Linked DNA regions of Homo sapiens. The protein of the gene in region 3 purifies or fractionates together with the protein of the main gene of each other region. This does not show direct contact. Each region holds a gene or a part of one and is shown on either strand. Other genes may lie near its edges.

The links. The genes of interacting proteins can lie anywhere in the genome.
Region 1: the proteins of SCCPDH (region 3) and ZZEF1 purify together in Homo sapiens (affinity purification with mass spectrometry; 2 studies listed by BioGRID and IntAct, with this or other methods). This does not show direct contact.
Region 2: the proteins of SCCPDH (region 3) and USP13 purify together in Homo sapiens (affinity purification with mass spectrometry; 4 studies listed by BioGRID and IntAct, with this or other methods). This does not show direct contact.

What each region holds. Positions count from the first base shown.
Region 1 is NC_000017.11:4,140,021-4,147,076, forward strand, and holds the start of ZZEF1 (zinc finger ZZ-type and EF-hand domain-containing protein 1), read right to left. Parts: upstream 3,011-7,056; 5' UTR 2,876-3,010; coding exon 2,522-2,875; intron 1-2,521. Other genes in the region: CYB5D2 (neuferricin isoform 1 precursor), read left to right, coding at 3,736-3,985. UniProt on the Homo sapiens protein: Histone H3 reader which may act as a transcriptional coactivator for KLF6 and KLF9 transcription factors.
Region 2 is NC_000003.12:179,761,023-179,768,049, forward strand, and holds part of USP13 (ubiquitin carboxyl-terminal hydrolase 13), read left to right. Parts: intron 1-89; coding exon 90-233; intron 234-2,979; coding exon 2,980-3,146; intron 3,147-4,672; coding exon 4,673-4,826; intron 4,827-7,027. UniProt on the Homo sapiens protein: Deubiquitinase that mediates deubiquitination of target proteins such as BECN1, MITF, SKP2 and USP10 and is involved in various processes such as autophagy, endoplasmic reticulum-associated degradation (ERAD), cell cycle progression or DNA damage response.
Region 3 is NC_000001.11:246,755,385-246,762,411, forward strand, and holds part of SCCPDH (saccharopine dehydrogenase-like oxidoreductase), read left to right. Parts: intron 1-2,841; coding exon 2,842-2,972; intron 2,973-3,649; coding exon 3,650-3,767; intron 3,768-4,572; coding exon 4,573-4,692; intron 4,693-4,786; coding exon 4,787-4,843; intron 4,844-7,027.

The DNA.
Region 1 (7,056 bases), on a different chromosome or scaffold from region 3:
GTGGAAAATGACAGCAGGAGTCAACAGAATTACTAAGTGGAAGATGTCCGTGGAGGATGACAGCACAAGATGGACGAAGCCAGGTCCCTGATGATGACAACACTGCCACATCAATCTTGGACTGCCTACCTGGACATTTTCATAAGGAAGCAGCTTCTTTTTATGTTTAAACCACTGATGCATTAGGTTTTCTGTCCCTTGAAAAAGTTTTGTGTATCCCTAATACACCACACCAGACTTCTTCCAGATTCTCTGGACTTTGAACTTTTGTGGATACAATTTCCTCTGCCTGAAACGCTGTTACTACCTCCTGTAACACTATCTGCTTTCACCATTCACCTGTGGGCTGAAATGTTACCTTCTCAGGTAAGTCTTGCTTGAGCCCCAAGTGAGGTTAAATACACTTGCTATTTATTCCTTATACCTTCCCCCTCGGTTAACACTCACCATATCTTATAATTAATGGGTTAATACCTGTCTCTTCCACCACAACTACATACTCTTTAAGAGCAAGTATCTGCTTTGTCCACTGTCATCCAAGTGAGTGGCACTCGATATACGCCCAATAAACATTTGCTCAGTGAACAATAATGCCACAACCCCTGAGTGATTTCTGGACCACACCTCAAGTATTTCTTGACCTTCTATTAAGGGACTCCTATGAACTCTACATAAAGTTCTATTTCTGTCAGAAACTCTCAGAATGTAAACGGTGTTTCTCTCCATTTGCCTTTGCTCAAATCTGCAAAGTGCCATCTCCTTCAACAGTTCTGCATGGTTCTTCCCACTACTACTTCATATTCTCATAATACGCGTAGATACTAGAAAGAAGGTACTATGTGTATTCCTGGGGGGAAAAAAAAAGGAGATCTTTCACTAACTAATATGACTTTTTTTTTTTTTTTTGAGACAGAGTATCGCTCTGAGGCCCAGGCTGGAATGCAGTGGCGTGATCTCAGCTCACTGCAACCTCCGCCTCCTGGGTTCAAGCGGTTGTCCCACCTCAGCCTCCCAAGTAGCTGGGATTACAGGCACCCGCCACCATGCCCAGCTAATTTTTGTATTTTTAGTAGAGGTGGGGTTTCACCACGTTGGCCAGGCTGGTCTTGAATTCCTGACCTCAGATGATCCTCCCGCCTCAGCCTCCCAAAGTGCTGGGATTACAGGCGTGAGCCACTGCGCCCAGCCATGACTATTATTTTTAAGGGTTGGGATGCCTTAAAGGTACTTTTTTCATAAGAAACACACAAACTACATTATCTGAATTCTGGCCATGTACAGGAAGACATTCTTAAAATATTTTAAAAGCCTCTGATTTTAAGGTGAACAGAACCTTTTAAAGGCACTGCAAGTACCCGCTGGTTTACTGCTTTATGTACACACCCTTCGTGGCCACTGAAGATTCTACATGACTGGCTAACTCATTTTCACAAAATAAGTACCTTTTTGGTCATACCGTGGTGTTAAAAGAAATAGGATCCCAGGAAGGAGGTAGTGAGACATTAAAAACAAAAAATAGGGTGCGGGTGGAGGGAGAGAGAGCATCAGGAAGAATACCTAATGGATGCTGGGCTTAATACCTGGGTGATGGGATGCTGTGTGGAGTAAACCACCATGGCACACGTTTACCTATGTAATACATCTGCAAATCCAAATCCTGCACATGTACGCCTGAATTTAAAATAAAAGTTGAAAGAAAGAAAAAAAAAAAAAGCAAGAGATCTAGTTGATAGTCTGTTTTACTAATGATTCACTGGGTAACCCTGGATCAGTCTTCTTAACTCGAAGTGAAGCGCCCAGTAAATAAACTCCCAAAATGCCTTCCAAGGAAAATATTTTGTTGCCAAATCAATTTGCTCTCTTAATGACTTAGCAGACATGATCTTGGTGATTATATGAAGAACTGCATAATTACAAGTATTCACAGGAAACCTGGTATTTGCCTATCAGTTTCGGATCCTATGAAGGTTTAAATGAGTCTAATATATGGTTCTTTAAGGATCTACAAACCAGTATGTATTTTAGAAAAGCTAGTTTTTGCATGAGGAGGATAGGTTTTAGAATGTGAGCCTTTCCAGCATGTTACTACTGTCTTTCCACACTTATTCGGCGCCCACACTGAATTGGGAAGGTGCTGTGTAAAAACCTGGACAGGACAATACAAAAAATGGTTCTCAGCGCCACTCCTCCTATCCTTACATCTCTTTTCTCTCCAAACTGTTCGAGAATCTGATAGAAGATCTCCAGAGTAGCGTCAATCAACTGCACAAAGGTCTGCATTACAACATACAGAGAGAGACATATGGGCTTGTCCAGCTCTTCAGAGCAAGGACGGCCTGATGCAGACTTTCCAGACCTCTAACATAGGTTAAAGAGAAACGAAGCAAACGCCTGGTGAAAAGCTGGAAACACCTCATATGGGTCCCCGCCTGGCCTCTCCAAAGCAAATGCCCACCTCTTCCTTCAGTCCCCTGGGGGCGACCGCCCTGCCCCATCCCCGCAGTCGCCTGCCGGCCCTGACCTCCTCGAACTGCTCGCTAGAGCAGCCGGCGCCGCGAGCCTCCAGCAGCTCCCGGAACTGCTCCAGAGTGACAGACTCTTCGCCGCGGCCCAGCCGCTCTTCCAGCCAGCGAAACAACGCGCCGCGATGCCTCGACACCAGCGACTCGCAGGGGGGTGTGGGCAGCAACGCTGCAGCAGCCTCTCGCAGCCTGGCCGGCTCCAGCAGCGCCGCGGCGGGTGGTAGCGCTGGAGCCGCGACGCCCGGGCCGGGGGTCGTGCCCGAGACCGCGGCCCAGTCCTGGTGTGGGCCCCAGCCCTCGCCACCGGCAGCTGCCGCTTCGTCTTCACTGCTGTGACTCGGAGCGTTCCCCATGGGGTCTCCGTCTTGGGCGCCTGGCTCTGCAGCCGCCGCCGCCGCCTCCCCGCCTCGACCTGTCAACCTCCGACAGCAGCTGGCGGGCGGGGACGCGGAGGAGACGACGGCGGCCCCTGCGGCTTCCGGCTTCCTGGCCGTCAAGCGACGACCGCTGTCGCAAAGGCGCCGTCACGTAGATAGGCGGCCTCTACCAACTCACGACAGCTAGGCGGGGAGCGCCGCCTCAAAGGGTGCAACCTTGATTTCCCAGAGGACGAGTCTGTCTCAGTATCTACGTCATTCCGTAGCCTCCGCTGCCGCCATCTTTGTTGGGGCTGACAACCTGCAAGCCAAGAAGTACGAGAAGGGCCAGGCGCGGTGGCTCACGCCTGTAATCCCAGCACTTTGGGAGGCCGAGACGGGTGGATCACCTGAGGTCAGGAGTTCGAGACCAGCCTGACCAACGTGGTGAAACCCTGTCTCTACTAAATACAAAATATTAGCCGGACGTGGGGGCGCGTGCCTGTAATCCCAGCTACTTGGGAGGCTGAGGCAGGAGAATCGCTTGAACCCGGGAGGCGGAGGTTGCAGTGAGCCGAGATTCCGCCAGTGCACTCCAGCCTGGACAACAAGAGCTAAAACTCTGTCTCAGAAAAAAAAAAAAAAAGTACCTGGAAAAAGTCGCAGACAGCGAGCTTTTCGCCAGTGCCAGGAATACAGATAAAACGAGAGAGACTAAGGGAGGGAGCGCGAGCACTAGCGCGCGAGAGAGAGAGCGAGAGCGCGCGCGCCGATGACGTCACGCTCGGCGTCTCGGCCATCTTAGCTGTAGATAGAGGCGGCAACCTCGGAAGTGCGGAGCGGGTGGGCCTATATAGATGTTGAGGTGCGGAGGCCGTGGGCTTTTGTTGGGCCTGGCTGTAGCCGCAGCAGCGGTAATGGCAGCACGGCTTATGGGCTGGTGGGGTCCCCGCGCTGGCTTTCGCCTTTTCATACCGGAGGAGCTGTCTCGCTACCGCGGCGGCCCAGGGGACCCGGGCCTGTACTTGGCGTTGCTCGGCCGTGTCTACGATGTGTCCTCCGGCCGGAGGCACTACGAGCCTGGGTCCCACTATAGCGGCTTCGCAGGTATCAGCGAGGCTGCTCACGCCTTTCTCTCCGCTGGCGCGAGCCAGTAGCCACCTGCGCGTCGTTCGTTGGTTCATTATTCATCTATTTCCCCCCCCATCCCCACCCCACATCCATCAAACCCGTGCGGTGGGCGGGACGAGCTGCATGCACTATCCTTCTAGGCTCTCTGGCTCTGGCGGGACTGTGGGCCAGCTCTGTCATCCACCACCGCCCTGCGTGACTTACATTGGAGAAACATGTCTTCTGTCTCTTGTTACCCATTACCCAGCGTCGGAAGCCCTAGGATACGGGCTGTGTGCCGGACTTTTGTGGGGGCTCTTAGGGCACAGATAAACGAGATCCCGCCCCGCCCCTACCCTCACAGTTTCCTTAATAATTCCAACCATCTCTTCATTATGCCCTGGTCCCAAATAATCTTTCTTCCCCCCACCCCTAAGCATAGTGTTTTCAAGGTTCATCCATGGTTTATGAGCATGCATCAATACTTTATTCCTTTATGGCCCGTCATATAGTACATTTGGTCTGAGTCATTCCTGCTTCTAGTACAAGATGCACCTGTTTGCCTTCCTTAGAAGGTTAGGGCAGAGGAAAGGGGTCCAGTCACCTTTACAGTCCTTGATACGTAGACCAAAGTTGTGCATATGTTAGGCCTCAAGAAACATTTGTCAAATTAAGTTTATGCTGGTGTCCCTGTGTTACAGCTGAGGGGGTTAAAGGATGCGATTTGCCTGAAACCCTCACACCTGAATACTGACAGAATATGGACTCGGACCACCAGTCTAGTGCTTTTTTTTTAAAGATGGAATCTCGCTGTGTCGCCCAGGCTGGAGTGCAGTGGCCTGATCTCGGCTCACTGCAAGCTCTGCCTCCCGGGTTCACGCCATTCTCCTGTCTCAGCCTCCCGAATAGCTGGGACTACAGGCGCCCACCACCACGCCCGGCTAATTTGTTGAATTTTTAGTAGAGACGGGGTTTCACCATGTTAGCCAGGATGGTCTCGATCTCCTGACCTTATGATCCGCCCACCTTGGCCTCCCAAAGTGCTGGGATTACAGGCGTGAGCCACCACACCCGGCCAGCCTAGTGCTTTTTTACAGATGTTGCCTTGCCAGCCAGCGGGACTGACCTCCAAAATTTAAAAAGAAAAAAAAAGTGCAGGGCAAGCCTAAGATCAGCTACTAGGCTGACATTAAATAAGCATTTTCCACTTGTCATTATCTTAGGGGAATTGGGAAGCTGCCTCTAGCACTTAAAATACAAGCCACTTCCCTCTGTCTAGGAAGTACTAAAGAAATACAAAAGTTGACAGAAAAGGAATGAAGTCCAGTTGGTCTCGCAAATCCCCTGAGATAGTCCAGCAGGGGAAGGGACTTACTCAGGGGTACACAGTGAGTTAGAAGCAGAGCTGGGACTGGAATCAAGGTGTTTTGTCGCTGCTAGTTGAAGGCAGTTTTCGTTGCGCTGCCCTGCTGCGTGCTGTGGGAGCTGTCGTTGGATGTTTGCACAAGTGTGGGCATAAAACCTTCGATGTCTGGAGTGCTTTTTATTTTTCAGTGTGCTCTGCTGTTTACTGAGCTCCCGTGTTCTGGTATTCATTGACCATCTTTATTTACCACTACCTACCTTGTGTCAGGGGCTGTGGAATCCAAGATGTCTGCAACATGCTCCCCACCGCCCACACAGTCTAGTTGGGAAGCAGTTATGTCCACGTATTCGTTCATTCAGTATTTTATTTCTCATTGAGATGTAATTCACGTGATGTAAAGTCCTTTTAACGTATACAATTCAGTGGGGTTTTTTGTTGTTTAGAGACAGGGTCTGCCTCTGTCACCCAGGCTGGCGTGCAGTGGCATGATCTTGGCTCACTGCAACCTCCGCCTCCCAAGCTCAAGCAATCCTTCCACTTCAGCCTCCCAAGTAGCGGGGACCATAGGTGTGCACCATCACGTGCAGCTAATTTTTGTATTTTTTGTAGAGATGGGTTTTCGCCATGTTGGCCAGGCCGGTCTTGAACTCCTGAGCTCAAGTGATTCAGCCGCTGAAAGTGTTGGGATTACAGGTGTGAGCCACTGCCCCCAACCTTTTTATTTATTTATTTTTATTTTTCGAGATAAACTGGTTCTTTAGCCCAGGCTGGAGTGCGGTGGCGCAATCTTGGCTTACTGCAACCTCTGCCTCCCGGGTTCAATATTCTTGTGCCCCAGCCTCCCGAGGAGCTAGGATTACAGGCGTGTGCCACCATGTCTGGCTAATTTTTTTTATTTTTAATAGAGATGGGGTTTTGCCATGTTGGCCAGGCTGGACAGGAAATCCTGGCCTCATGTGATCCACCTGCCTAGGTCTCACACAGTGCTGGGATTATAGGTATGAGCCAAAATTCAGTGTTTTTTTTGTTTTTTTGAGATGGAGTCTCACTCTGTCGCCCAGGCTAGAGTGCAGTGGCGCAATCTTGGCTCACTGCAAGCTCCGCCTCCTGAGTTCATGCCATTTTCCTGCCTCAGCCTCCCGAGTAGCTGGGACTACAGGCGTCCACCACCACACCTGGCTAAGTTTTTGTATTTTTAGTAGAGACGGGGTTTCACTGTGTTAGCCAGGATGGTCTCGATCTCCTGACCTCGTGATCTGCCTACCTCAGCCTCCCAAAGTGCTGGGATTACAGGCCTGAGCCACCGCGCCTGGCCCGGTGGGTTTTTTTTTTTAGTATAGCCAGAAATTTGTAAAAATGTCACCACTAACTCTAGAACATTCTTCTCACCCCAGAAAGAAACTTCTTATCTATTAGCAGTCACTCCTTATTCCTTCCTTTGCCAACCACTATCTACTTTCTTTTCCTGTCGATTGGCCTATTGTGGGCATTTCATGGAGTCATACGTGTGGCCTTTTGTGTCTGGCTTCTTTCACCTAGCATCATGTTTTAAGGGTTCATCCATGGTGTACCAGCATGTAGCAGTGCATTATTCCTTTATGGCTGAAAATATTCTATAGATACTATAATTCTAATAATATGGATATACCACATTTTATCTATCAGTTGATGGATTTTTGGTTTCTTTCTACTTTTTTTGCCT
Region 2 (7,027 bases), on a different chromosome or scaffold from region 3:
GTAGCATGTGGATAGGAGAGTGGAGAGTAGCTAAGACAAGAAGCGACAGTTTCCTCTTTCACACTAGAATATCCTGTTGTGCTCTGTAGCATCAGACATCGATGAGTCATCAGTGATGCAGCTGGCCGAGATGGGTTTCCCGCTGGAAGCATGTCGCAAGGCTGTGTACTTCACTGGAAATATGGGCGCCGAGGTGGCCTTCAACTGGATCATTGTTCACATGGAAGAGCCAGGTAGGTGGCGAGAAAATGGAATGGCTTTGGAGTCTGATGTGACCCTCAGTGATGCTGAGTCCTGGTCCTTCCAAGGTCCCTGTGGATGTATCCCTAGAAAATGACTTTATAGTTCCTAATCTCCTGCAGTGGAGGAGAAAGCCAGTCTTTTTCTTCTTCTTTTTTTTTTTAAAAACAGCAGCTTTAGGCCAGGCGTGGGGGCTCATGCCTGTAATCCCAGCACTTTGGGAGGCCAAGGCAGGCGGATCACGAAGTCAAGAGATGAAGACCATCCTGGCCAACATAGTGAAACCCCATCTCTACTAAAGATACAAAAATTAGCTGGGCATGGTGGTGCGTACCTGTAGTCCCAGCTACTCAGGAGGCTGAGGCAGGAGAATCGCTTGAACGCAGGAGGCGGAGGCTGCAGTGAGCCAAGATTGCACCACTGCACTCTGGCCTGAGTGACAGAGCGAGACTCTGTCTCAAAAAAACAAACAAACAAAAAAACAACAAAAAAAACCCCAAACAGCTTTATTGAGATATAATTCATCCCTTTAAAGTGTATAAGTCAGTGGCAAAAAGACCAATAGAAAGATACGGGATATACTTCTAACTAAGCGATGATGAAAATTTGAAATGGAAACATGGGCATGAAGAAATGGAGGATGTTTAGTTAGCTTTTTCTTTTATCTACTTTATTAAGCTATAATGCATATATTCATCTGTTTAAAGTGTACATTTCAATGGTTTTTCATAAATTCACAGTTGTGTAACCATTACCACTATCAAATTTTAGAACATTTTGTACCCTTCAAAAGAAATCTCATACATAATAGCAGTCACTCCCCATTTTCCTGCTCACCCCAGCCCCTGGCAACCACGAATCTGTTTTCTGGATCAAGGGATTTGCCTGTTTTGGACATTTCATATAAATGGAGTCATATAATAAAAGGTCGTTTGTGTTTGGTTTCTATCACTTAGCATAGTGCTTTCAAGATTCATCTATGTTGTAGCATGTGTCAGTACTTCATTCCTTTTTACGGTAAAATAATAGTCTGTTGGGTCGGGTTTGGTGGCTTACGCCTGTAATCCCAGCACTTTGGAAGGCCAAGGCAGGAGGATCATTTGAGGTCAAGAGTTCAAGACCAGCCTGGCCAACATGGTGAAACCCCATCTCTATTAAAAATGCAAAAATTGTCTGGGCATGGTGGCGGGCACCTGGAGTCTCAGCTACTTGGGAGACTGAGGCAGGAGAATTGCTTGAGCCCAGGAGACGGAGGTTGCAGTGAGCTGAGATCACGCCACTGCCCTCCAGCCTGGGCAACAGAGTGAGACTCCATCTAAAATAATAATAATAATAACAATAATAATAGTCTATTTTATGGGTATACTATATTTTATTAATCTTTATCAGTTCATGGACATTTGGGTTATTTACATTTTTTGGCTTTTATGAACAATGCTGCTATAAACATTTTTTACAAGTTTTTGTGTGGATGGACATTTATTTTTACTTCTCTTGAGTGGAATTGCCATGTCATATGGTAACTCTATATTTAATTTTGAGGAACGACCAAACTGTTTTACACAGTGGCTGAACCATTTTACATTTCCACCAGTAATGAATGTGAGTTCCAATTTCTCCATATCATCACTAACCCTTATTATTATCTTTTTTATCATACCCATCCCAGTGGGTATGAAGTGGTATCTTGTGGTTTTGGTTTGCATTTTCCTAATGACTAATGATGTTGAACAACTTTTCGTATGTTTATTGACTGTATATCTTATTTGGAGATATGTCTATTCAAATTCTTTGCCCATTTCTAATGAAGTTATCCTTTTATTATTGAGTTCTAAGAGTTCTTTACAAATTCCAGATACGAGTTTCTATGAGATATATGATTTGTGTTTTCCCCCCCATTCTGGTGTTTTTTCACTTTCTTGATGGTATCCTTTGAAGCACAAACATTTTTAATTTTGATGATGTCCAATTTATCTTTTTTTTCTTTTATCACTTGTGCTTTTTGTGTTGTAAATAAGAAACCATTGCCTAATCCAATGGCAAAGACTTACTCCTGTGTTTTCTTCTAAGATTATTATAGTTTTAGCTCCTATATTTAGGTCAATGAGCCATTTTGAGTTAATTTTGTGTATGATGTGAGGTGAGGGTCTGACTTTATTCTTTTGTATGTGGATATCCAGTTGTCCCAGCATCATTTGTTGAAAATAATGTCCTTTCCCCACTGAATGGTCTTGTTGAAAATCAGTTAACCACAGGTATATGGTTTTATTTCTGGAATCTCAATTCTATTTAATCGATCCATATGTCTGCCTATATACCAGTACCAGACTGTCTTTTTTTTTGAGACAGAGCCTTGCTCTCTTGCCCAGGCTGGAGTGCAGTGGTGCAATCTCAGCTCACTGCAACCTCCGCCTCTTGGGTTCAAGCGATTCTTGTGCCTCAGCCTCCCAAGTAGCTGGATTACAGGTGTGCACCACCATGCCCTGCTAATTTTTGTATTTTTAGTAGAGACAGGATTTTGCCATGTTGGCCAGGCTGGCCACGAACTCCTGACCTCAGGCGATCCACTCGCCTTGGCCTCCCAAAGTGCTGGGATTACAGGCATGAGCCACTGCGCCTGGCCCAGACTGTCTTGATTATTATAACTTTGTAGAATCATGTTTTTCCTTGTTAGTGTTGTTTCAGGACAAAAAAAAAAAAAAAAAAAGGAAAAGACTTGGGTGTGGTTATTTTTCTCAGATTTTGCTGAGCCGCTGACCATGCCTGGTTATGGAGGGGCAGCTTCTGCTGGAGCCTCTGTTTTTGGTGCTTCTGGACTGGATAACCAACCTCCAGAGGAAATCGTAGCTATCATCACCTCCATGGGATTTCAGCGAAATCAGGCTATTCAGGCACTACGAGCAACGGTGAGCATGAGAGACTGTGTGTGTGTGTGTGTGTGTGTGTGTGTGTGAATTTATTTCTGTAGCAGTTGAGACTTTCCAATGTACTTTGATCATTTTGATTCATGTTTGATTCATCTAACTGTGAATCTCATCATAGCCCATAAAGATTTATTTGCATATTATAAATATAAAGCTAAAATGAATGATTTTCACACAGCGAATGAGATAAATAAATCTGGGGTAATATGAGCAAACTGAAAGAAACTTGATATCATCTTGAATGTTTGTTAACAGGGGGTCAGAAATTTGACTTGGAGGCTGCTTGTGGCCCTAGAGGAAAGAGGGATGCATGAAATTCCATGTTCAGTAAGAAGTCCTTTAGGAGATAGAATGCTTTTCTGATACCAAGACCTTGGGTAAATGTCTCTTAAAAGTCCTCATAGAAAACTGAATGGCTCCTTGGAATTCTCTGCTGCTGTTTCTCTCTGCAGAAAGAGAAGGTTCTTCTGGTAGCCATGAACTTCTTGATACCAAGAAACAAGGGACTCTGAAACTACAGGGTAGACAATTCCCTTCTGCAGTGCTGATATCTGTTTAATCTTGAGGGAAGGTACTTAAAAAACAAAACAAAACCCATCCTTCCTGGTCACACCATAATCCATTTTTGAGTAGATATCTGCTCTCAATTACTTCTTGCCTATCCTGATGGGGTGCCTGCTAGGATCCGTTGCTGAGGTCACAGTGGCTCTTGATTGTCTCATGAGGATGTGGCTAGGACAACCTGTCTCCCTTTAAGATGATTAAAATATCTCAACCAGAGTTTGTTTTACTTGGGGTACTTTCTTGTGCTCCACTCATTTTATTTGCCTGACTGTTTCATTAGAGGTTTTATATCTATACAAATTCTTTAACCTGCCAGAAATATCACAAGCTGAGAAAGATGGAAATATTTTTATGGTCAATTAGTTTGAAGTACATGGAGTTCAGTTTAAACAATTATACTTAACTAATCAGTGTTGTTGTCATTAATCAAGATATTAATCTTGTCTTTACTGGAATTCAAACATTTTACCAACATTCCAGGAGAGAAGGCTCTAACATAATACCACACTGGCATCCCTCTATTGTTCAGTTATCTGCAGAAAATACAGTTGGTAGAGAAGGTAGTGTGTGCAATTAAAGTGGCTTTAGAAAGAGCTGCACTTAAACAAATGCCATACCCTTGGTTATTCCACACCTATTATTATCAGCATCTTCCTGCAGAAAAGCTGAGCTAACATTGATATAAACTTTGGAATGCTGATCTGCTGCTTAGAACTCTTTTCCAGTGAATCCAATTACAGATGTCAGCTGGGAGACTTGCAGAATGCCATGCCAACTGAACGTGCCTGTCATGCGGAGTCAGAGCTTCTTACTCAGTGGCACTTAGGACTAATTAATTCAGACCTCCTTCCCTATCTGCCTGACATCTAGTTGAAATGGTCAGGACATAGTGAGGCCTGAGGCTGCATGCATTGTAAAAACATCTGTTTCTTTTTTGTTGTTAGAATAATAACCTGGAAAGAGCACTGGATTGGATCTTTAGCCACCCTGAGTTTGAAGAAGACAGTGATTTTGTGATTGAGATGGAGAATAATGCCAATGCAAACATTATTTCTGAGGCCAAGCCCGAAGGACCTAGAGTCAAGGATGGATCTGGAAGTAAGTTCTTGCCTTAGAGGCTGTCTGAGCAGTCAGAACTATACGTTCAGCTCATGCCCTTCCCTCCCACCACAACATAGTCAAGCCTTTGCCATCATTCAAAAGTTAGCACAGATCCCATCTTCTTCGTTTTTTTTTTTTTTCTTTTTTGAGACAGAGTCTCACACTGTTGCCAGGCTGGTGTGCTGTGGCGCGATCTCGGCTCACTGCAACCTCCGCCTCCCAGGTTCAAGCCATTCTCCTGCTTCAGCCTCCCGAGTAGCTGGGATTACAGGCATGTGCCACCACACCCAGCTAATTTTTGTATTTTTAGTAGAGACGGGGATTCACCATGTTGGCCTGGCTGGTCTTGATCTCCTGACCTCGTGATATGCCTGTCTCGGCCTCCCAAAGTGCTGGGATTACAGGCATGAGCCACCATGCCTGGCCAGATCCCATCTTCTTAGAAATGGTGCAGTTTGCCACTTTGCATAGGCCCCGGTGATCTGATAAAGTCATGTCAGAATCATGTTGCTTGGTCATGTTTGTGCCCAAGTTTAGGGCCAACTTTGATTTTGTCTGTTCCTTTGAGGTAAAATTTCTTCATGGACCATGGGAGCTTTTGTCAAAAAGAGAACATTTGTTTTCATGGTAGTGTTTTTTGAGTAGTAGCAAAGTGGTCTCATCCTTGATCATATCGTTACCCGTACCAACTACTAATAATATCCTGAAGGGGTGTCTCAGGATGACAGGAAGAGGCGCCATAGGCCGTTGTTCTGCCTTTTAATAGCAAACACTTATGTATGTCACTATGTGCCAGGCACTGTTCTAAGCACTTTGCATATCAACACTCATGTAATTCTCACTACAACTGATTTTACAGGTGAGAAAATATAAGCATAGAGAGCTTGGGTACCTTGCCAAAGGCCACACAGCTCTTAAGAGATGGAGCCAAGATTCAAACCCAGAATCCTTGTTCTTAACCTTTGTGATATCCTGTTTCTTGGGCTGTCATTGCCTGTAGAATAACATTCAGGCTCTTTAGCTTGGCATTCAGCACCTCCTCCAGTCAGATCCAGGCCACCTGGTCTCCCAGTGTCACTTCTATACTCCCTATACCTGCAGCTGAGATGCCTGGGACTGTAGCCACACTCTTAGCCTACTCAGCTGTCAACAACTCTCTTCTCACTTAACCTGCAGACTCAGGTTAACCCCTATTTGTGAAATGAGCCTTCTCTCCCATCACTGCACACTAAAATTCTCATCATTATTTAGAACTTGGCCACAGATTCCATTTCTCTGGACTGCCTTCCTAGATCCTTGTCATAATCAGCTCATGCTTACCTCATATGCTAGCAATAATTATACCAGTATGAAAAATACTCCCATTTGTGCCATCTTTAATCCTCACAGTAACCTTATGAGGTACATACCATTATTATCCCCATTTTACAGGTGAAGAACCTGAGATAGAGAAGGCTAAGTAATAGCTTGTCAAGGTCTCATAGCTAGTGATGGATAGAACCACAATTCCAGTGCAGGCAGTCTGCCTCCAGAGCCTGTGCCTGTAGCCACTGTAATGCATTGTTAGTTTTTTTTGGTTTTTTTTTTTTTTGAGACAGAGTCTCACTCCATCACCCAGGCTGGAGTGCAGTGGCACGATCTTGGCTCACTGCAACCTCCACCTCCCAGGTTCAAGCGATTCTCCTGCTTCAGCCTCCCGAGTAGCTGGAATTACAGGTTTGGGCCACCACGCTCCCTTGTTAGTTCTTCTGTTGTTGGAGGTATCAAGTTGATCTTGCAATAAAATTACTTCTGTAGGTATTTGTGTCTCCCATTTGACTAGGAGCTTGCCCAGGGCAGAGGCCATTTGGCTTTTATAAAACTCATGGTGTCTAGCATGGTGCTAGACACATAGAAAGTACTGAGTAAATAACAGTTGTATTTAACTAAATCTACACTAGCAGCATTTGTTCCTATAATCATATAGTGGCAGATTTACTCATTAATGTTCTTTCCAGACCTAACATGTACGTATTCATATACAGATAGAAAGAGACGGTGGGAGGGAACTGTCTTCTTCTTTTTTTTAATATAAAATAGGAATTTCATCACTGAAACTGTTTCAATGCCAACTGGATAAGAAAGGATGAGATGTCGTTCTCCCAATTTCCATACTCATTTAAAGTATCTGGTATTACTTTTCAGAAATTACTAGCTTG
Region 3 (7,027 bases):
TTGGAGATCAAGACCTGTTATTAAGTCAGCATAAACCCTTGACATATGGTAAAGGGGCTTTTCCTATCATTTTTCTTTTCTTTTTACAAATCCACTTTTACTGGTATTTATTTACTTTTCATTAGTTCAAATCCTTGAGGAGTACAGCATCACAGAGCCGCCGTGACTAGTGGCCTAAGCAGGACGGCTGCTTTGGAATTAGGCACACATTGTGCCACTGTTTCCGTGGGCACACGTTACCTTTCTCCACCTTACTCTGGTTTTGTTTGGTTTGCTGCCAGGAGTCAGTATTATTCTTTGTACACATAAGCGCATTTCCTGCCCAAATCAAATCTCATTTTATGTCAGCCATAAATACCTTCAGTTTTAAGAAGAGCTGTGTCCTCCCTTTGGTTCTGGAGATCCTGCTGACGGCAAAAACGGCCTTGGACCACAGCTTTCCAGGCATACTTGTCATTTAGAATTCCTCCTCCCAGCAGGCCTCCGGGCTTCAAGTTGGCAGGAACAGCAAGGGGGCTTTTCGGTAGATGCTGCTGGGACAATTGAGTATCTACTTGGAGAAAAAATGGAATTGGATTCATACTTTTGCACCCCGTACCAAAATCAAGTTTAGATGGATTGTGGATGCCCTCACGGTTGGGAATGGCTTTTACAAAAAGACAAAGAGGCATTAAATGTAATGAAAAAGTGATACGTTTGTGTACTTTTAAAATTGAGAATGTTTCCCAAAACACACGATTAAGAAAGTCAAAAGGCTAGCTGCAATGTAGGAGTTACTTACAACACGTGGTAAATCCTGACATCACAATTTTGAGCATAAGAAGCCAAACACTCAGTAATAAATCTTGCTTGATTGCATTTCTGTAGAGCTTAGAAACAGGCAAAACTAATTGTACTGTTTAGGGATGAATTCTTAGGTGATTAAACTCTAAAGAAAAGAATTTTTCTTGATTACTGTAAAGGCAGGACGGAAGGAGGGCCTTCTTAGTTGCTGGTTACCTGTAGTTCTTGACCTGGATGTTTACATGTACGTTGGCTTCATAACATACATGAATATACAATTTAATAAAATTGTATTAGGTACGTCTCTATATTTTTCTGTGAAACGCAAATAGTTTTTTAAATTGAATGTAATTTTTTCCTTTTCAATGGCTTAGTTGTATAAGAAAATATGTTTAGATTTTTAAAAAGCTGTTTTCTCCTGGTGTTTGGAATCTTTACATTTGTAGAGATTCACATAGGCCCTTTTGGCTAGGCTCAGATTGAGTAGATAACAAATCAAACCTTTAAGACTTTAGTTCTGTTGTAGTTTTAATAAAACAGAAGAAATAAATCTGTACCAGAATGAAAGTTAGATTTGGTATCTCTGCTTTTCAGTATCATCAAAGCTGAGATAGGAAAACCTGAATCTTTGGATGGTTTTATTGTTTCTCTTATTTTGTTTATTAACAATGAAAGGTACCTTCATATCTGCCTCCCACATATCCCTCTTTGAAAATCTTGTGACAGAATTAGTTTTGAATCTTTCTGAATTACTCTGTTGACCTAAACAATGTAAACAACATAGAAGGAAGGACATAATACAATTATGTACAATCAATATAATAAATGAAGTTTATTCCTGTAATAGAGAATTAAAAGGCCCACCTAGAGGTTGGGAAAGAAAGGTCAGTGCTAGGCCGGGCGCGGTGGCTCATGCCTGCAATCCCAGCACTTTGGGAGGCCAAGGCGGGCGGCTTGCCTGAGGTCAGAAGTTCGAGACCAGCCTGGCCAACATGGTGAAACCCCGTCTTTACTAAAAATACAAAAATTAGCCAGGCATGGTGGTGGGCACCTGTAATCCCAGCTACTCGGGAGGTTGAGACAGGAGAATTGCTTGAACCTAGGAGGCAGAGGTTGCAGTGAGCTGAGATCGTGCCATTGCACTCCCGTCTGGGTGACAAGAGCAAGACTCTGTCTCAAAAAAAAAAAAAAAAAAAAAGGGCCAGCGCTGTGATAGTAAATTCAGAGGTCGTGTCCTCTCCTGGGGTCTCAGCCACTCGTTTCTCGGTGGCGCTAGAGGTAAGGGTTGGGGAAGCTGTAAAGAGTATTGGTAGAATGGAAGGCACTGACAGCCCAAAGTCTCATGAAAGGATGAAAAATCAGTGAATAAATGAGAGTCTGAGTAAGATCAGGCAAATACTAAGGACTCTGTACTGGCTGTGATACCAAAAAGAAATCAAGGGATTGAGGAAAGCAATTAAAATACAAATCATTATTAGTGAACTTTAAATGTTTTAAACAATTATTTTACTAAGACTTCAGTAGGAAGACAGATCTATAACTTGGGGCTAGAGTAAGAGGTGTTGGAGGTAGACGGGGAACCAGGTGTAACAGGATGGAGAGATGGACAGTACACAGTGTATGTATGCATAAATGTGCACACGGACATATCCAGAAATGTTGAGGAATTTGTGTAGGATCGAGAGAGGATTAGGGTGGCTATTCCTGCAGATCATATGGGGCAGAAAAAAAAGGATTAGAGTGGCTGATCTTGAAGGAATATGGTCAATTAGTTGAGTAAAATTGATGAAGTAAAACTAAATAACTTATTACAGAATATAAAGAATGATAGGAGGGGAGAAGAAAGGGCTTCTCGGTGTAAATATTGGGTATGATCAAGCTAATGAATGTGACTGCTCCCTAGCTGGTCATGAAAATTCTCCTCAAGATTATTAAATCAGGGATTATGTCTTGTCCAAATATAAGTGAAATATTGTTTGTAACAATGATAAGTTACTTGGCTTTACATTTTAGTAACTACCCTTTCATGTTTCTTTAACTCTTGAAATATTTTATTAGGGGTTGAGCATTCATGATGGTACCTGGAAGTCAGCAATTTATGGTTTTGGAGATCAGAGTAATTTGAGAAAACTAAGAAATGTATCAAATCTGAAACCTGTCCCGCTCATTGGTCCAAAATTGAAGAGAAGGTAAATTAACTTAAAATCCATTTTTTATATATCTAGTCTAAGTATATTGTTGTTGGGTTGGCTATTAATAAAGTATGTTACTAAGAAAAGCTTGGAGACTAATTTGTAGTAAGTTCAGAATTGTTTTCACAGATAAATAAGATATAATTAATCCATTACCATATGCTTGAGATAAATAAGATATAATTAATCCATTACCATAAGCTTAAGATAAATAAGACATAATTAATCCATTACCATAAGCTTAAGTACTTCGTGTGTAATAAAACATGTGAATCCTAGGAAATAAGTGAATCTTATGATGACTTTTCACTATCAATATAGAAATTAACTGTCAACTAAATTTTATGTGAGAACTTTTTTTCTTTTTTAAAAATTTATTTTAGTTTAGTTTTATACTGCAGGACATATGTGAGAAGTTTAGAGGTAAGAATTTAGGGTTGGGCTGTTGAAAGGAGCGTTCTGGTTTTTTTTTTCTTTTGAGACAGAGTCTCTCTTTGTTGCCCAAGTTGGTCTCAAAGTCCTGGCCTTAAGTGATCCTCCTGCCTCGGCCTCCCAAAGTGCTGGGATTACAGGCATGAGCCACCATGCCCTGCCACTGATTTGCTTATTCAGACATTTACCAGCCAAAGTTGTAATTGCAGGAAATGCAAAATATTCATAGGTCTGTCTTGCAGGTGGCCAATTTCTTATTGTCGGGAACTCAAAGGTTATTCCATTCCTTTTATGGGATCTGATGTGTCTGTTGTAAGGAGGACTCAACGTTACTTGTATGAAAATTTAGAGGAATCACCAGTAAGTATATATGGTTTATTTATCAATAAAGTGTGTGTTACAGTTCCTCTTTCTATTCAGTGTGGGATATTTTTGTTTATAAGGCAGAAAAAGGAAGAGCTAAGTAATACATGTTTCAGCCTCTGGAAATACACAGAATCATTAGGGTAGAACATTTTGTATTTTATAACCTTGTCTTTTGATTCAGATCTGGCTGCTGAATATCTTTTTAATGTAACACAATAGCAGCAAATTCAATACGGGAAATCCTGCTGTCATAAGCACCCCAGAATCCCTGTTTAGGGTTTCAGTTGCTAGAAACTCTTTTGCTTGTGGAAATGTCTGGAACCCTTTCTGTCCCCTCTCTCCTTGCCACGCCTGGAGTTCCATCCTGCTGCTTTTGGCGAGGAAAGTAATTGCTTTCATTGCCGAGACTTCAGGAGGAAATTATATTTCAAGTTAAAAGGTGGAGGGCATTTTCTTATAGGAGTCTACGTTCTGTAATGTATGATTGCTAAGCTCAGATATATTAGGGATTATGTAGATTTTTGTGCCCAAGTAGGGGAAGCTAATTACTATTTATAAACAATTTTCTTTAAAAAGTAGACTATCATACTTCCTGTTCACCAGGTCTGACAAAACAAACAAAAAATAGGCTCCCAATGTCTGGTTTCTGAACAAGATTTCAGAACATAATGCATTTGTAAAGTGGAAACTGCTTTTGTTCCACATTTGTGATGGAAGAGAAAGGTACAAGTAACTAACATTCTTACTTGGTCCAAAATGTAGGGAGTAATGTTCTAACTTTGTCTTCTCCATCATCTAGGTTCAGTATGCTGCGTATGTAACTGTGGGAGGCATCACCTCTGTTATTAAGCTGATGTTTGCAGGACTTTTCTTTTTGTTCTTTGTGAGGTTTGGAATTGGAAGGCAACTTCTCATAAAAGTAAGTAAGATTTTATGAAATTAGATTATTTTTATTAGAAGTATTTTCCATGAGTTTTAAAAAAATATCACTGACGGTTTTTTTTTCCCTTTAGTTCCCATGGTTCTTCTCCTTTGGCTATTTTTCAAAACAAGGCCCAACACAAAAACAGGTAATTTCTTTTGTATTAAGACACTAAAATAATATTTTTCTTTGTGCAATGACGGTATCATCTAACACTTGACAGGGCACTATGTTTCAGATACTCTTTTAAGTTCTTTATGTAAATTAGATTATTCAATCTTTTCAAACACCCCTTGAATGTAGGTATTATTATTATCTCCATTTTACACATCAGAGAACTGAGGCACACAGAGGCTAAGAAACTTGCCCAAGTTTCTCCAGGTAGTACATGGCCCAGCTGGGATGAGAACCCAGCCATTTAGCTCCAGAAATTGTGTTCTCTTCACTTCCAGAAATCTCAAATATTCTTCTTCCTCCATTTTTCTCCTCTGTTATCTTTTCCTTTGTGCCTCCTCTGCCCCCAGTTTCACTTCCTCTTCCACATACCCTGGATTCCGACGGGGGATCAAGTGAATTTCTGTGTGTCCAGCATCCCCAACAATAGGACTGCCTCATTTTCTACCGTTTGGCTTACAGATCCCAACCCTGGCTCAGGCCTTGGGTCATTAGCTTTCATCTCCTTGACACCAGGCACTCCTGGGGGAAATCCCACTGCTGAACAGATGGTAGCAGCAAGTTCCCGTTTCCCCCTCTGTGGAATGTTAGCATCACTTGCTGATTCTTTTCCTTTTCGTTAGTCTTGCCTCTTATCTCCTCTCAGTGGCTTTCTTCAAAATCTACCCAACTGCAGCTGTCTTCCCTATCTGTAAATTATCCCAACTCCTACCTCACTAAAATAATTGAGAGCACTGTTTTGTATCCCCTCAAATTCCTACTCTCAGACCTATCATCATTGTTCCCATCCTGACCTTCTTTCCTCCTCTCTGGATGATATACTCCCTGTACAAGGCTAATCCCCGCCTGTGCACTTAACGTAGCATCATTGTTCCATCCCGACCTTCTTTCCTCCTCTCTGGATGATATGTTCCCTGTACAAGGCTAATCCCCCGCCTGTGCACTTAATGTAGGCACTGTGCAGGAATGCGCCACCACGCCCGGATAATTTTTTTGTATTTTTAGTAGAGACACGGTTTCACCAAGTTGGGCAGGCTGGTCTTGAACTCCTGACCTCGTGATCCACCTGCCTCAGCCTCCCAAAGTGCTGGGATTACAGGCGTGAGCCACTGCGCCCGGCCTCTTTTTTCTTCTTATTGTGGTAAAATACACAAAACATAAAATGTACCATCTTAACCATTTAAAAATGCTGAGTGGTATTAAGTACATTCATCTTTTTGTGCAGCCATCACCACCATCCATGTCCAGAACACTTTTCATCTTGCACAACTGAAACTCTACACCCGTGAAACAATAACTCCTCATTTCCGCCCTCCCCCAGCCCCGGCAACCGCATTCCGCTTTCTGTCTCTATGAATTTGATGACTCCAAGTGCCTCATGTAAATGGAATCAGTCTTTGTCTTTTTGTGACTGGCTTATTTCACCTAGCGTAAGGTCTTCAAGGTTCATCCATATTGTAAGCATGTGTTCGAATTTCTTTAAGGGTGAATGATTGTCTGTTGCCTGTCTGGATCACATTTTGTGTATCCATTCATTCATCAGTGAACACATGTGTTGCCTCCAGCTTTTGGCTATTGCCAGTTATGCTGCTGCGAACATGGGTGTACAGATACCTCTTCAAGACTCTGCTTTAAATTCTTTTGGGCATATACTCAGAAATGGAATGCTAGACCGTATGTGAATTGTATATTTAACTTCTTGAGGAACCACTAAACTGTTCTGCAGAGCTGCTGCACCGTTTTACCTTCCCACAAGCAGTATACGAGAGTTCCAGTTTCTCTGCTTCCAAACCGACATCTGTTATTTTCTGTAATGGCCGTGAGGTGGTGTCTCATTGTATTTTTGATTTGCATTTACCTGATGATTATTAGTGTTGAACATCTTTTCATTTGCAATTATTGGCCATTTGTATGTCTTCTTTGGAGAAAATATTTTCAAATCATATATTTGACAGAAGATTCATATCCAGAAAATATAGAGAACTCCTAGAACTCAATAACAAAAAACAACCTAATTCAAAAATGAACAGAAGGACTTGAAAATATTTTCTGTTATTCTTTGGGTTGCCGTTTTACTTTGTGGATAGTGCAGGCTTCTGTCTCGTGGTTGGTAGTGCAGGCTTCCATCTCTTGCTTGAACTTTTCGTAGCATTCCTAC